Regions from separate parts of the Homo sapiens genome. Here region 1 is linked to region 2. A link means that fine-mapping ties the variant in region 2 to the expression of a gene that starts in the linked region. Tissue or cell type: whole blood. Region 2 holds a variant in brackets; the other region holds the start of a gene. All regions are shown on one strand. Distances are between the middles of the regions.

Region 1 (8,000 bases), 610 kb before region 2:
AGTGTAATCTCAGGATTAAAACCTGCTACAAGCCCCAGAGAGCTTGCTGCCTCCACAATAAGTACTACTGCACTCAAGAAGCAACGAAAGTCTGACCCATATTAATTGTGTTGTTCAAAACATTTCAGGACAAACACATTAAACACTTCTCTCTATCCTACCAAACCCAGACATGCCAGTTAGCAAAAACAACTCCTATCACATCAACCTCACAGTTTCTCGCTCTCTCTTCCTGATCCAGTACCTGGTAGACAAAGCAAATAGTAGGTGCTTGGCAACCATATAGGAACTTGACATCAATGACATGCAGCTCCTCCAGGCGGATGTTGAAGGCCTTGAGTTCTTTATTATCGCGATCTAGTGGAATAACCTTGAAAAGGCCATCATAGAGACGCAGGCCAATCATCCGGCACTCAGGGTCAATGATGCCAATAATGCCGGTCTCTGAGGGGCGGCCAATGCGGTCCTGAGAAACAAAATCGGGATTAGGGAAGAACCTCAACATCCACAGAGCAACAGAGGACGCTGGGCACCACTTGTGCAGAAAAATTTTAGGAGAGGTATTAAAACTAATGGATCTATTTGATAGGCCAAATAGTTGGAGCCCCAATGTCAGTGCATGCCTTTTTCATGAAACACTGAATCTCAATGAATTATTACCCTGTCCCTTGGGTCTTGAGTGAACTACAGGAGTCCTTTCTCCAAAAAGCTCAAACCCATAGTGTCTTCTCCTTATTTCTCTGATCGAATAGAGAGCTGCCCCCAGCACTTTAATTTTTTCCATGAATCATGACAGCCCTACTTAGAAAACTTTCATTGGCCTAAAGCAGCCACCTCACCTGGACATTGCCATGGGCTCGCGTAATGATGTCAATGCTCTCGCCACTCTGTTTATACTCCAGGATGCAGGCATTGTACTTCGCTGTCAAGATAAACAGCAGGTCCTTGCTCTCCCCCTGGAAACCAATATTATGCTATCAAAAGAGGTTCTTTTTAAAACAGGAACAACCTGTCCAGTCTTTAAGCACACCAAATTCTTTAAGAATTTTCCAAATTCTTCTCTCCCTAAAGAGAAAATACATGGTGAGCTTGTAACCCACACTAGGTACACATACACCCTAAGGGCATGTACAAAAAGCCAGAACTGAAGCTGGTAAACATCTAGTTCTCACTTTCATGATTCTCCATCTCTCTGTTCTACAAACAAAGTCTTCATCTATTTCAATCTCAAGCTAATCTCAATCATCCCATTCAAATTCTGAAAGATGAATGTAATGCCTCCTCCACTCCTCCCCAAGTATTTGAAGAAAGAGGAAAAAAAATGTGGGAATAACAACGGAAGCTAAAATGGATCAACAAAGTCCTACTTATTTAACACAGACTCCAAAAAATTGCTGTTTTGTTCAAAGGGTTATAATTAAAATTTTGAACCCACTGCTTTCTTGCCAGATTCAGTTAAGACAACATAAAGCAATGTGGTGGTGATTTGGATGAAAACATTTGCGCTAAAATAATGAAAATACTGATGGTAATTGTTTTTTTTGTTTGGTGTTTTTTTTTTTGGAGATGGAGTCTCGCTCTGTCACCGGGCAATGGGCGCCATCTCCACTCACTGCAACCTCCGCCTCCTGAGTTCAAGCAATTCTTGTGCCTCAGCCTGCCAAGTAGCTGGGATTACAGGCACGTGCCACCACACCCGGCTAACTTTTGTATTTTTAGTAGAGATGGGGTTTCACCATGTTGGCCAGGCTGGTCTCGAACTCCTGACCTCACGTGATCCACCCACCTCGGCCTCCCAAAGTGCTGGGGTTACAGGCGTGAGCCACCATGCCCGGCCTGGTAATTGTTAACATAACTGTAAATGCTTGCTATATGATAGGCCCTATGTTACTGAATCATTTCATCGTCACAACAACCCAGGGGATTTGATCTGAAAGGTGCCTTAAGTGGCACCTAAAGTCAGAATTAACAAGAAATGAAGCCAGGACTGCCCCACTCTGTAGCCTATCCTCTGAAACAAACTGCTTTAATTTCTCCCTTCTAAAGAAGTCAACTTCATAAATGTTTCCCTAATGAATCTCTCCTTTTACTTCTAGAAAGCTTGGTCAAGAGTACATACTGAAATTTGCTATCCAAAGAGAGAAAAAAGAGAAGAGTTTTTCTCCTAAAGCATATTCCACCCATCCCAAGAATTCGCAAAACAACCTAACACAGCCCAAGCACGGTGGCATGCCTACAATACCCCAGCTACTCTACTCCAGAGGCTAAAGTGGAGGGATTGCTTGAGCTCAGGAGTTCAAGACATCCTGGGCAACACTGTGAGACCCCCGTCTCAAAGAAAATAAATAAACAAACAAAAATAACATAAAACAACCTACGACCAACAGTTCCCCCTCCACTGCTTGTCCCAACTGCAACACTTACCTTGGGCCTGAAAAGCTCCATGACCGCAATCTTCCCATACATGCCCACCTCTTTGACGGGCCGAAGCCCCTCGGCGGTGACCACATAGATCTCTAATCTCGTGTTTTTGGCAATCAACAGGTTTAAGTCTTCGGCCGAAGTAAAGTGTCCTGAAAGAACAGACCCTCTAACTTTTGAACTCAGGGGAAGGGCCTCCCATCCCTTCAAAATAATCCTATCACTTATGTCTAAATACCTCCAGAATTCTCATTTACTTCACATACTTCTCCAACTCCCTCCAGCTACTCCCCTTCTTGCCAAATCCGGCACCTCAAAGAGTCTCAGTTCATGCATTCAACAAAGCTACTTCCCTAATCAGACTAAGAAAACTGGACTGGACCTAAGAGCCGTGTGTCCTCCAAATGACAATGACTGCGTAATCCCTTCTCATGCCTCTTGCCCCTCCAATTTTACTCTATTACAGTTACAGTGGCAGGCTCTAATTGAGAATGCCGGAGAAAGTGTTCACTTCTTCCAGTCTTCATCTAAAGTCTCACAAAACTTTTATCTGACAGACCAAGTCAAATGAAGAAGTCCCAGAGCTTTATATGAAAACACTGTTTTGTCCACACCCCCTGCCCTCCTGGCAGTCTACCAATACCTCCATCCACACTCAGCTACCTCCAACTCTGAACAACAGTTTTGTTTTGGAATCATGATTAGGGTGTATATAAACATGCAAGCTTGGGGTCTGCATATTCAGCTGAGAATGTGGGTTAAGATGACTCTTCCCGGGTTCTGAACATCGGTGTCCTTAACAATCCAAGCGCATCGTCAACAAGGCAAACCCAGCACTGGGCCAGGCAAACCAAACCCTCTTCTCCAGCAGGGCCCTCATGTAAACAACAGCCCCAGGCAAAGGGGTTAGCCTGAAGAGGGCTCCTCTCCCTCTGTGGGATAATGCGGGCATTCCTCACATCCCTCCACCTCCTGGGCCCCCCAGACTTCCCCACAGGAAAATCTTGACCCCAAAGTCGTCATTACCACCTCCCCTTTTCCTGGCCACAGAAAGCCAATCTCCGGGCCCAAACGACACCGCACAACCAACTCACACTCCTCTGTCTCACTGGGCCCGCCCTGTTCTCGAGGCCGAATGACCTCCCCAGGACGAAAGGGGACCCTCGAGAGCGGCTTCCAACCCCCAAAAAGCGCGTACAGGGACGACTCTTTCGAGGTCGCGGTGCTGGGGGAGGTTCCTCGGCCGCCAGCGCCTTCCATTCGCCGGGCCCACTCCTGCCCGGCCGCCCCCGGGGCGGCGGGCCTCCCTAGGCCGCGGCTCCCCCCAACTCCCTCACTCGCCGGGGTCTCCGGCCCCGGCAGCCTCACCGGTCACGCAGCCGTTCACGGCGGTGGGCTTCTGGGCCGTTACCACGTAGTTGTACGACATGTCGAGGCTTGGAGCGGCCCGTCGGGACTCGAGCGCGACACTAGAAAGAGGGACACAAGCGAAAAGACAGGTGGCCCCCAACAGCGCGCAGCGAACTCCACTGCCGCTGCCTCCGCCCCAGAGACACGTTGCAGGCCAGAGCGGCCGGGGCGCGGGGCATCACGGGACGGCCTCACCTGGCCTCTTGGAGGACTCCCGAAGCCCGAGGCCGCCAACCGAAGGAGGCCCCGCCCCCGGAGGCACCGCCTCGCCTCTTTCCGCCAGCGCCCGCAGGACCCGGATGAGAGCGCACGCTTCGGGGTCTCCGGGAAGTCGCGGCGCCTTCGGATGTGGCGGATGCGGCCGTGAGCCGGCGGGGGAGGTGCGCCAGTGTCCTCCGAGCTCGCCCGCAGACTCCCCACCCCGTTCCGCGCCCTTTGCCCTTCCCCGCATCCAGTCCTCCTTCCGTTGCTCCAGGAGCCCTCGGGCTGTTCCTCCTTTGGGAACGGGAAGGACTGCGGAGGCATAGAGAGGGAAGGGAGACCGCGATTCGTGCATATCCCAGACTAGAACCTTGCCTGCTTTCCTTTCACTGTCTCAGTTCCTCCAGATCCAGCTGGTGCCCTCGCCTGACGTTTGAACGACCACCTGCTCACCTCCTCCCTTTTGCGCGTTGATTCTTCAGACTTCAAAGGGCCCACCGGTCTGCTTGCCCAACGTTATTAGTGCCCCTATTGCTCTACAAATTCGAACCTCAAACACAAAACCAGTATTTCTCCGTAGGGAACCTTAATGAGCCAGGAGAGCCGTCAGCCCTGCAGCCTCCAGGGTACCCCACATCAAACAGGCTCCCCGGGAACAAGAGGAATACCACGTGGCTTGGCACACTCGCAGAATGCCAGAGAGGAGCCAACCCCCATTTTACAGATGAGGAAGCTGAGGCTTAGGGAGGAATTGGTTTACCTAAGACCCTCCCCACAACCCCAAGTAGGCTGAGGCAGAGCTATGTTGATTCTTCCTATTGTGCACCCACACAGAGGCCAACACGCTGCTGAACCAGGCTGAACTGAGGAAAAGCTAGAAAGTCATCGTGGTTTACATCTTGCCTTTCCCATAGCAGAGACTCTGCCTGACTTTGGAGGCACTGAATTATCAGTAGTAAAAACACACTCTGTAGAAAAACTAGACATTGGTTTAGATTCTGGCTGTTACCTGTATTACCTTGGACAAGTCCCTAGAGCTCTCTGAGTCTGTTTCCCAGAAGTAAAATGGGTCACAAACCTGGCTAGCTCCCCCCATTCCCTTCCCTTTTGGTGCCAAGGCCAGTGAGGGCAAGCGTGTGACGAGCTTTGTTAACTTTTTCGCTGCATGTGATGCCCGTGTAAAAGATAGTTATTCTGAGGATCACTGTCCTTTAGTGATGAAGTGGGTGCTGTTCCTGGACATAAAGGCAGACCTGTGCTTGACATGGATTGATCTGTCTTCTGGCAGTGAAGTGCAGGCATGAACCTTGGTCAGCCCCACACTCTTCTCCATCCGTAGCCCATGTACTAGAGTTTGGACTTGGACCGAAGTCTGGGGCAGCTCCCTAATTACTAGGGTGCTGAAGGCGTGATTGTGCCAGTCGACTGCGAGTTCCTTCCGCAGCTTGTATCGTTACCCACTCCTGCAGGTGCTGCTGCTGCCTCCACTGTACTCAGACCCAGGTAGCACAGGATTGTCCATCCTCCAGCAGCTCAGTGCAACGGTGTGAACTCAGCCTGTTTCAGAGCCTCCACACCATGGTGAGTCATACAGGGCCGGGACGGGAATGGCAGCATGGTCTCAAAGCAGGATCCCAGCCTTGGGCAAGCTAAAGCTCCTTACACTTTGACTGAGAGATGCTATTGCCTCCTGAGGCTCACGGGTGAAGAGAGAGGGTCATCCTCTCTCCCAGGGTCTGATCCCTGCTTTTCTTTGTTTCCTGGAGGCTGCTGGTCCCAGCCAGGCCTGGGGCTGCAGCCTCTTGAGTCCCTTCAGAGCCACTCTGCCCCTTATCTGGGTCTTGCATTCAGAGTAAAACAGTAACAGTTACCTGCTCTGTAATAGACATTGTACCGGTCACAGAAGGAATCGTGAAGAATGACCATGTGACCGTTCCTAACCTTGGGGCTTATGTGGGCCGGTCTGGAGCTGGGATCTACAGTGTGGGAGGCTGGCCATGTCCCTGGGCTTTGCTCCAGGCCCACTGATTTGAACCAAAACAAGCCTTGAACATATCTGGATTCAAATTTCAGCCTGCCACTGACCAGCTGCATGACCTTTTACAGACCTCTCTGCGCCTCTTTTTCTTCATCTGCATTATAAGGCAAATTAAGGCCTACCTCCAGTGGTTGTGTGGTGTTGATCAAGCAGAGTCCTGGAGGCCTCACTTGACTTCCTTTCCTTTTCCATCCTTTCAGGCCACTGAAACCAGGGATAGCACTGGTCCCTAAACCCTCTTCTGGCTCTGTAAAAGACAGATTATCATGATGGGGAGCAGGCCACTTTCTTGGAGGGTAGTGCTGCTGGAGGCTGGGCTTGGAGTGAGGCCAACTCACAACTTCATTGTGTGTTCCAGTCCCTGGTAGGCTCTGAGAGCCACAAACCCATGTCCTTTCTAGGGCAACCTCTGTCACCCTCCACTTCCCTCCAGCCCCTCGAGAAAGCAGCATGATATGGCCAAAAGGGAACCAGCTTTGGAGCCAGGCAGACCTGGACACCTGCTGGCTGTGTGACCTTGGGCAAAATAGTTTAACTGTGCCTCAGTTTCCTCACTGGGCTCATCTTTCCTCCATAGGGCTGTTGGGAAGTTTTGTTTTGTTTTAGTTTGGGTTTTTTTTTTTGAGACGGAGTTTTGCTCTTTTTGCCCAGGCTGGAGTGCAATGGCGCAATCTCGGCTCACCACAACCTCCGCCTCCCAGGTTCAAGCAATTCTCCTGCCTCAGCCTCCCGAGTAGCTGGAATTACAGGCATGTGCCACCACGCCCAGCTAATTTTGTATTTTTAGTAGAAATGGGGTTTCTCCATGTTGATCAGGCTAGTCTCGAACTCCCAACCTCAGGTGATCCACCCGCCTTGGCCTCCCAAAGTTCTGGGATTATAGGCATGAGCTACCACACCCGGCCTGTTGGGAAGATTAAATGAGACATGCTCAAAAACACTTAGAACTGGGCCTGGCTCTTAGTCACTGCTCAGCAAATGGAACCAATCTTATTGTTCTTCTTGCTCCCTACAGACCTAGGCTACTCTGAAGCAGGTGGCTTAGCCCTGGCCCTGGCTGGATGCAGGACAGGTTGGCAGGGAGGCAGCAGAGCCAAATTTTGTACAAAGGAGCTGGTGCTAGCAAGCTCAGGAAGAAGCCACAGCCGGAAGTTCACCTTGCCAGGACCTGGCTCAGCTGCAGGTTCCCACCGGGCCACCAGGTGGCGGTGGGAGCCCAGCCCTCTGAGTCCACGTTGGGCCCCAGTCTCACTCTGTCTTCAGGACAAAGCCAGGGGCTGCAGCCCTTGTTCAGCAGACTCTGGCTTTTCACAGCCTGTTTGAAAAAGGGAGTAGCTTCATTTGATTGAGTTTCCACTATATCATGGGCATATACTCTGTTCTAGTAAATCCCTATTTTACAGAGGAAGAATTTTAGCTCCCGACAATGATGTATCTTCCCTGAGTTCCTGCAGCTAATGAGAGGCAGAAGTGGGATTTGAACCCAAGTCCCTGTAACAGCAGAGCTCAAGCCACACTCCATTCTGGCCCCCACGCTACTCACTTCTGTCTGCACCCTGTATCCACTCAGCCAAGCCTGGCGGCACTGCTCTGTAACCCTCCACCAGCCTGTCCACAACCCCTCCTGAGGCTGCCTGTGGCCAGTCCTCTCCTCCCCACCCCTTCCTGCTGGTCACCCGTGCTTCCTGGCACCACCACACTATTCACTCATCCAGGCCTTGGCTTATGCTCCCCCTCTGGCTGGAAGAGCCTCCCTTTTCCCTCCTCCCATGTCTCCTGCCCCCTTTTTCCCTACCCCGGTCCTGCTTATCCTTCCCAGAGACCTCCAGGCCCCTCGGGAGGCTGCGGCCCCTCCTCTATGCTCCCATGGTGCACGTGCGCTCCTCGTGTAGCAGTGCCCACTACACATGGCTGTGACCTCTGCTGTGTT
Region 2 (8,261 bases):
AAGATGTTGAAACCCCATCTCTACTAAAAATACAAAAATTAGCTGGGTGTGGTGGCACGCACCTGTGATCCCAGCTACTTGGGAGGCTGAGGCAGGAGAATCGCTTGAACCCGTGTGGCAGAGGTTGCAGTGAGCTGAGATTGAGCCACTGCACTCCAGCCTGGGTGAGAGAGCAAGACTGTGTCTCAAAAAAAAAAAAAAAAAAAGAAAGAAACTGTTTCTGAGGAAGCACAGACATTAGACTTTATAGATAGACTTTAAATCAACTATTTTATTGTATTAGTTAATTAATTATTTTTTGAGATGGAGTCTTGTTTTGTCACCCAGGCTGGAGTGCAGGGGCACTATCTCAGCTAACTGCAACCCCCACCTCCCAGGTTCAAGTGACTCTACTGCCTCAGCCTCCCGAATAGCTGGGATTATAGGCACCTATCACCATGCCTGGCTAATTTTTGTATTTTTAGTAGAGATGGAGTTTCACTATGTTGGCCAGGCTGGTCTCAAACTCCTGGCCTCAGGTGATCCACCTACCTCGGCCTCCCAAAGTGCTGCGATTACAGGGGTGAGCCACCACACCTGGCCTAAATCAACTATTTTAAATCTACTCAAAGACCTAAAGGAAACCATGAGAACTATATCTCACTAAATATAGAGTATAAATAAAGATAAATTATAAAAAGAAAACAAATAGAAATCCTGGAGTTTTAGGTATATGCCAAGAGGAACATTTAAAAAAAAAAGAAAAAAGAGAAAAATAAATTCTGGAGTTGAAGAGTATAATAACTGAAATAAAAATTCGCTAGAGGAGGTCAATATAGATTAGAGCAGGCAAAAGAAACAATCAGCACACTTGAAGATAAGTCCACTGAGATTAACAATCTGAGAAACAAGAATGGAGAAAAGCAAATGGAGTTTAAGAGACCCATGGAATACCATCGAGCATAACAACATATGCATAATGAAAGTCCCAGATGGAGAGGAGGCAGAGAAAGAAGAAGACAGAATATTTGAAGAAATAATGGCCCAAAACTTCCAATATGTAATGGAAGATTCAATCTTCACATTCAATAAGCCTAATGAATCCCAAGTAGGATAAACACAAAGAGATCAAAACCAAGATACATTAGAATCGAACTATTGAAAGACAAAGATAAAAAGAGAATCTTGATTTTTGTTGTTGTTGTTTTGAGACAGAATCTCACTTTGTTGCCCAGGCTGGAGTGCAGTGGCACGATCTCAGCTCACTGTAACATCTGCCTCCTCCGTGCCTGGCTAATTTTTGTATATTTAGGGGAGACAGGGTTTCGCCATGTTGACCAAGCTGGTCTCAAACTCCTTACCTTAAGTGATCCACCCACCTCGACCTCCCAAAGTGCTGGGATCACAGGCGTAAGCCACCATTCCCCGCCTGAAGAGAGAATCTTGAAAACAACAAGAGAAAAGTGACTCATCACATATAAGCTAATCTCAATAAGATTAACAGTTTATTTCTCATCAGAAACCATGGGGGCCAGATAGTGGGATGATATATTCAGAAAATGCTGAAACCAACAAACAAAAGAGGATTAAGATTTCTATATCTATCTATATATAACTAAGATTTCTATATCTGGCAAAGCTATCCTTCAGAAAAAAAAGGAGAACTCAAGACATCCTCAGATAAACTAAAGTCGAGAGAGTTTGTCGCTAGTAGACCTGCCATATAAGAAATGCTAAAGGGAGCTGTTCAGGTTGCTACTAAAGGACACTAGATAGTAACTCAAAACCACATGAAGAAATAAAGAACATCAGTAAAATAAATACATAGGTAAATATACATAGATAAATATAAAAGTTAGTATTACTGTATTTTTAGTTTAAACTCCTCTTTTTTCCCTTATATAATTTAAAATACATCTACAATAACCATAAATCTATGTTGATGGGCATGTAAGGCATAAAAATGTAATTACTGACAATAAAAACATGAAAGGTAGGGGATGAAGCTATAGAGGTTCAAAGATTTTGCATGCTATTGAAACTAAGTTGGTATTAATTAGAATTAGATTGTTAAATATTATTATTTAAATTTTTTGTTGTAGTTGCAGTTTTTGAGACCAGGTCTTGCTCTGTTGCTTGGGCTGGAGTGCAGTGTTGCGATTATGGCTCACTGCAGCCATGAACTCCTGGACTCAAGTGATCATCCCACCTCAGCCTCTGAGTAGCTGGGACTACAGGTGCACATCACCACATCTGGCTAATTTGGTGGGGGGGTGGCTAGATACGGGGTCTTTCTTTATTACCCAGGCTGGTCTCAAACTTCTGACCTCAAGCAATCCTCCTACCTCAGCCTCCCAAAGTGGTAGGGCTTGAGTCACCATGCCCAGCCAAATTGTTCAATATCCAAGACAACCACTAAGAAAATAACTAAAAGAAAAGAAAAGAAGGGAATCAAAAGAAAAAAAGAGAATCAAAATGGGGCACTAGAAAATATTTAACACAATAGAAGGCAATAATGAAGGAGTTGAGGAACAAAAAAACAAAAATATATAATGCATATAAAAAATAGCAAAATGGGAATAAATCCTTATCAGTAATTACATTAACTGTAAATGGATTGAATTATCCAATTGAAAGGCAGAGATTAGTAGAATTGATTTTTTTTAAAAAAAACATGATCCAGTGCTCACTTCAGCAGCACATATACTAAAATTGGAATGATACAGAGAAGATTAGCGTGGCCCCTGTGCAAGGTTGACATGCAAATTTGTGAAGCTTTCCATTATAAAATTAAAAAATTAAAAAAAAACCCCACATGATCCAACTATATATGCTGTCTACAAGAGCTTCGCTTTAGCTCAAATGACCCAAATTGTTGAAAGTGAAAGGATGGAAGATATTCCAGGCTAGGGGCAGTGACTCACGCCTGTAATTCCAGCCCTTTGGTAGGCTGAAGTGGGAGGATTTCTTGAGGCCAGGAGTTCAAGACCAGCTTGGGCAACGAAGTTATGCTATCTACTAAAACAAACAAACAAACAAAAAAACCTGGTATGGTGGCACACACCTGTAGTCCCAGCTACTCAGGAAGCTAAGGTGGGAGGATGGATCCCTTCGGCCCAGGAGTTTGAGGCTGCAGCCACTGCACTCCAGCTTGAGTGACAAGGGACTCTGTATTTAAATACTACATATATTCCATGAAAACTAACAAAAAGAGGGCTGGAGTGGATATCCTAATATTATAAAAAATAGACCTCAAGGCAAAAATTGTTACAAGGGACAAAGAGAAACATTTTGTAATGATAAAAGGTTCAATTCATCAAGAAGATATAACAATTATATATTTCACCTAACAGGAGAGTCCTCAAAGTATTTGAAGCAAAAATGGACAGAATTCAAAGTAGAAACAGGCCAGCAAGAATAGCTGGAAATATCGGCTGAGCACAGTGGCTCATGCTTCTAATCCCAGCACTTTGGGAGGCCGAGGTGGGCAGATCACCTGAGGTCAGGAATTCAAAACCAGTCTGCCCAACATGGTAAAACCCTGTCTCTACTAAAAATACAAAATTTAGCTGGGCATGGCAGTGTGTGCCTGTAATCCCAGCTATTTGGGAGGCTGAGGCAGGAGGATGGCTTGAACCTGGGAGGTGGAGGTTGCGGTGAGCCAAGATTGTGCTACTGCTCTCCAGCCTGGTAACAGAGCAAGACTCTGTCTCAAAAAATAAAAAAAAGTAATAAATAAATAAATAAATAAATAAAAAGAATAGTTGGAAAC[G/A]TCAATACTTCACTTTCAATAATGGCTAGAACTACACACTAGATAAGGACATAGAAGACTTGAACAGTGCTAACTCTACCCAACCATAGCAGAATATACATTCTTCTCAAAGTACACATAAAACATTCCCCAGGATAGACCATATGTTAGACCACAAAATAAGTCTTAATAAATTTTAAAGAATTGAAATCATATGAATTATCTTTCCAACCACAAAGGAATGAAATTAGAAATAACAGAATTAAAAGTGAAAAATTCACAAATATGTGGGAATTAAGCAACACACTCTTAACTGCCCCACGGATCAAAGAAAAAATCACAAGAGAAATTAGATGAGATGAATGAAAATGAAAATACAGCATACCAAAACTTATCGAATACAGCAAAAGCAGTACTCAAAGGGAAATTTATAGCTGTAAAAACCTACATCAAAGAGAAGAAAGATCTCCAATTAATAACCTAAACTTCCAATTTAAGGAACTAGAAAAAGTAGAATAAACTAAACCCAAAGCAAGCAAAAGAAAGAATAAAAATTAAGAGTGGAGATAAATGAAATAGAAAAGAGAAAAACAACAGAAAGAATCAATGAAAACAAAAGTTGATTCTTCAAAAAGATCAAGAAAATTGATGAAACTTTAGACTGACCAAAAAAAAAAAAAGAAGACTCAAATTACTAAAGTTAGGAATAAGGCTGGAGTGGCTCACGCCTGTAATCTGAGCACTTTTGGAGGCCAGTGCGGGGGAATTGTTTGAGCTCAGGAGTTCAAGACCGGCTTGGGCAACATAAGGAAACCTTGTCTCTGCTAAAAATAAAATATTAAAAAATTAGCCAGGTGTGGTGGCACATGTCTGTAGTCCCAGTTATTTGAGAGGCTGAGGCAGGAGGATTACTTGAGCCCAGGAGATTGAGGCTGCAGTGAACTATGATCTTGCCACTGCACTCCAGCCTGGGCAACAGGGTGAGACTCTGTCTCAAAAAAAAAAAAAGGAACGAAAGTAGAAAAATTACTACTAGCTGGACATGGTGTCTCGTGCCTGTAGTCCTAGCTACTGGGGAGGTTGAGGCAGGAGGATTGCCTTGAGCCCAGGAGTTCAAAGCTGCAGTGAGCTATGATCGTACCACTTCTCTCCATCCTGGGTGATAGAGCAAGATGCTGTCTCTAAAGTAAATACATAGGCTGGGTGCAGTAGCTCACGCCTGTAATCCCAGCACTTTGGGAGGCCGAGGCTGGCAGATCACCTGAGGTCGGGAGTTCGAGACCAGCCTGACCAACATGGAGAAACCCTGTCTCCACTAAAAATACAAAATTAGCCAGGCATAGTGGCGCATGCCTGTAAACCCAGCTACCCGGGAGGCTGAGGCAGGAGAATCACTTGAACCTGGGAGGTGGAGGTTGCGGTGAGCCGAGATCATGCCATTGCATTCCAGCCTGGGCAACCAAGGGTGAAACTCCGTCTCAAAAAAAAAGAAAAAAAAAAGTAAATACATAAATGAATGAATAAAAATTAAAAATAAAAATGTGGCCAGGCATAGTGGTTATGCCTGTAATCCTGGCATTTTGGGAGGCCAAGGCGAGAGGATTCCTTGAGCCCAAGAGTTCGAGACCAGCCTGGGCAAGATGGTGAGACCCTATCTCTACAAAAAGTTTAAAAGTTAGGCTGGGCGCGGTGGCTCACGCCTGTAATCCCAGCACTTCGGGAAGACGAGGTGGGCGGATCACTTGTCAGGGGTTTGAGACCAGCCTGGGCAACATGGTGAATCCTTGTCTCTACTAAAAATACAAAAATTAGCGGGGCATGGTGGCACTTGCCTATAGTCCCAGCTACTCAGGAGGCTGAGGTGGGAAAATGACTTGAACCCGGGAGGTGGAGGTTGCAGTGAGCCGAGAATGCACCACTGCACTCCAGCCTGGGCAACAGAGCAAGACTCCATCTCAAAAAAAAAAATGTAAAAATTAGCCAGGCACTGTGGCACGTGCTTGTAATCCCAGCTGCTTGGGAGGCTGAGGCAGGAGGCTCCCTTGAGCCTAGGAATTCAAGGTAGCAGTGAGCTATGATCACACAGCTGCACTCCAGCCTGGGTGATAAAGTGAGATTCTGTTTCTATAAATAAATAATAAAATAAATAAAACATTTTAAAAAGAAAAACTACTACCAACCTTACAGATACAGAAAGAATTATAGAACACTATGAAAAATTGTATGACAACAAACTAGATAACCTAGATTAAATGAACAAATGCCTAGAAACCAAAACTTCCTCAAGAAGAAACAGAAAACTTGAATAGACCTCAAACACAAGATTGAATCAGTAATCAAAAAACTTCCAATAGAGAAACGATTAGGAGCAAATAAAGAATAAATGCCAATCCACAAACTGTTCCAAAAAATAGAGAAGAATATACTTCATAACCCATTCTCTTGTGCCAGTATTATCCTAAAACTAAAGCCAGACAATATCTCACAAGGAAAGAAATATAAAGACCAGGCTGGGCGTGGTGGCTCACGCCTGTAATCCCAGCAATTTGGGAGGCTGAGGCAGGTGTATCACGAGGTCAGGAGATCGAGACCATCCTGGCTAATGTGGTGAAACCCCATCTCTACTAAAAATACAAAAAATTAGCCAGGTGTGGTGGCAGGCACCTGTAGTCCCAGCTACTCGGGAAGCTGAGGCAGGAGAATGGCGTGAACCCAGGAGGCGGAGCTTGCAGTGAGCCCAGATCGCACCACTGCACTCCAGCCTGGGCAGCAGAGCAAGACTCTGTCTCAAAAAAAAGAAGGAATATACGGACCAATATCCCTTATGAATATAGATGCAAATATCCTCAACCAAATACTAGCAAATCCAATCCAGCAACATGTTAAAAAGATTATACATCGTGTCCATGTGGGATTTATCATGGGAATGCAAGCAAGGTAGTTGAACATATGAAAATCAGTGTAAAGGCCAGGCATGGTGGCTCATGCCTATAATCTTAGCACGTTGTGAGGCCTAGGCGGGCAGATCACTTGAGGTCAGAAATTTGAGACCAGCCTGGCCAGCATGGTGAAACCCCACCTCTACTAAAAATACAAAAATTAGCCAGACATGGTGGCGTGCTCCTGTAATCCCAACTACTTGGGAGGCTGAGGCAGGAGAATCGCTTGAAACCAGAAGATGGAGGTTGCAGTGAGCCATGATCGCACCACTGCACTCCAGCCTAGGCAACAAGAGCAAAACTCCGTCTCAAAACAAACAAACAAGATGTGCTTTGTTAAACAGATGCTTGAAGGCAGCATGATCGTTAAGAGTCATCACCACTCCCTAATCTCAAGTAATCAGGGACACAAACACTGTGGAAGGCCGCAGGGTCCTCTGCCTAGGAAAACCAGAGACCTTTGTTCACTTGTTTATCTGCTGACCTTCCCTCCACTATTGTCCCATGACCCTGCCAAATCCCCCTCTGTGAGAAACACCCAAGAATTATCAATAAAAAAATAAATTAAAAAACAAACAAACAAACAAACAAAAAACACCTGAGCTCAAACAATTCTCCCTCCTTGGTCTCCCCAAATGCTGGGATGACATGCATGAACCACTGCACCTGGCAAATTATGACATGATCTTATATGTAGTAAACCCTAAAGAATCCACACAAAAACTATTACAGCTAGTAAATAAATTCAGCAAAGTTACAGGATACAAGATTAATATACAAAAATCAGCTGTATTTCCATACATTAGCAATAAACAATCTGAAAATAAAATTAAGAAAATAATGCCATTTACAAAATGGAACTTTATTCTTATTAAAAAGAATAAGAGACTTCGGAATATTTTTAACCAAGAAGATGCAAGACTTGTACACTGAAAACCCTACGACAGTGGTGAATGAAACTAAAGAATACCTAAATAAATGAAAAGACATCCTATGTTCATGGATTGGAAGACTTGATGTTGTAAAGATGACTAAGTGATCTACAGACTCAGTGTAATCCCCATCAAAATTCCAACTGCGTTTTTTGCAGAAATGGGCAAGGCGATCCTAAAATTCACATGGAATTGCAATGGACCCCAAATAGCTAAAACCATCTTGAAAAAGAACAAAGTTGGAGAACTTACACTCCTGGTTTCGAAATTTCTACGTAGCTACATAATTAAAACAATGAAATATTGAAGTGACATATAGCTCAATAGAATTGATAGTCCAGAAATAAACCCATATATGTATTATCAATTGATTTTCAACATGTATGCCAAGACAAGTCAATAGGAAAGAATATGCTTTTCAACAAATATACATGGACACCTGGATAGCTACATGCAAAAGAAGAAAGTTGGACCTTTACCTCAAATGATACATAAAAATTAACTCAAAATAGGTCAAATTCCTAAATGTAAGAACTAAAGCGATAGAAGTTTTAGAAGAAAACGTACGGGTAAATCTTCATGACCTTGGATTTGACAGTGTCAAAATTTATCTAAATTAAAATTTTAATGTTTAAAATTCAAAATGAATTAAAAACTTTC

Evidence for each region. PIP is the estimated chance that this variant, and not a neighbour inherited with it, causes the effect.
Region 1: TKFC starts here. The variant in region 2 is fine-mapped to the expression of TKFC in whole blood (TOPMed, PIP 0.98).

Annotation. Positions count from the first base shown.
Region 1 is chr11:61,329,119-61,337,118 of GRCh38, forward strand. It overlaps TKFC (triokinase and FMN cyclase), which reads left to right and starts at 4,110. Exons shown (of 18, transcript NM_015533.4): 1 at 4,110-4,211; 2 at 5,502-5,613. The coding sequence starts at 5,611. It overlaps DDB1 (damage specific DNA binding protein 1), which reads right to left and starts at 3,987. Exons shown (of 27, transcript NM_001923.5): 1 at 3,790-3,987; 2 at 2,425-2,573; 3 at 840-956; 4 at 245-466. The coding sequence starts at 3,850. RefSeq lists enhancers at 3,549-4,071, 4,072-4,594 and a silencer at 3,990-4,249.
Region 2 is chr11:61,935,233-61,943,493 of GRCh38, forward strand. It overlaps a transcript of RAB3IL1 not described here and the pseudogene RNU6-1243P. Among named protein-coding and RNA genes, the nearest start is that of BEST1, 11 kb to the right of the region's middle. RefSeq lists a silencer at 3,288-3,436 and an enhancer at 6,621-7,275. The variant G/A (reference allele first, on the strand shown) is at 3,752.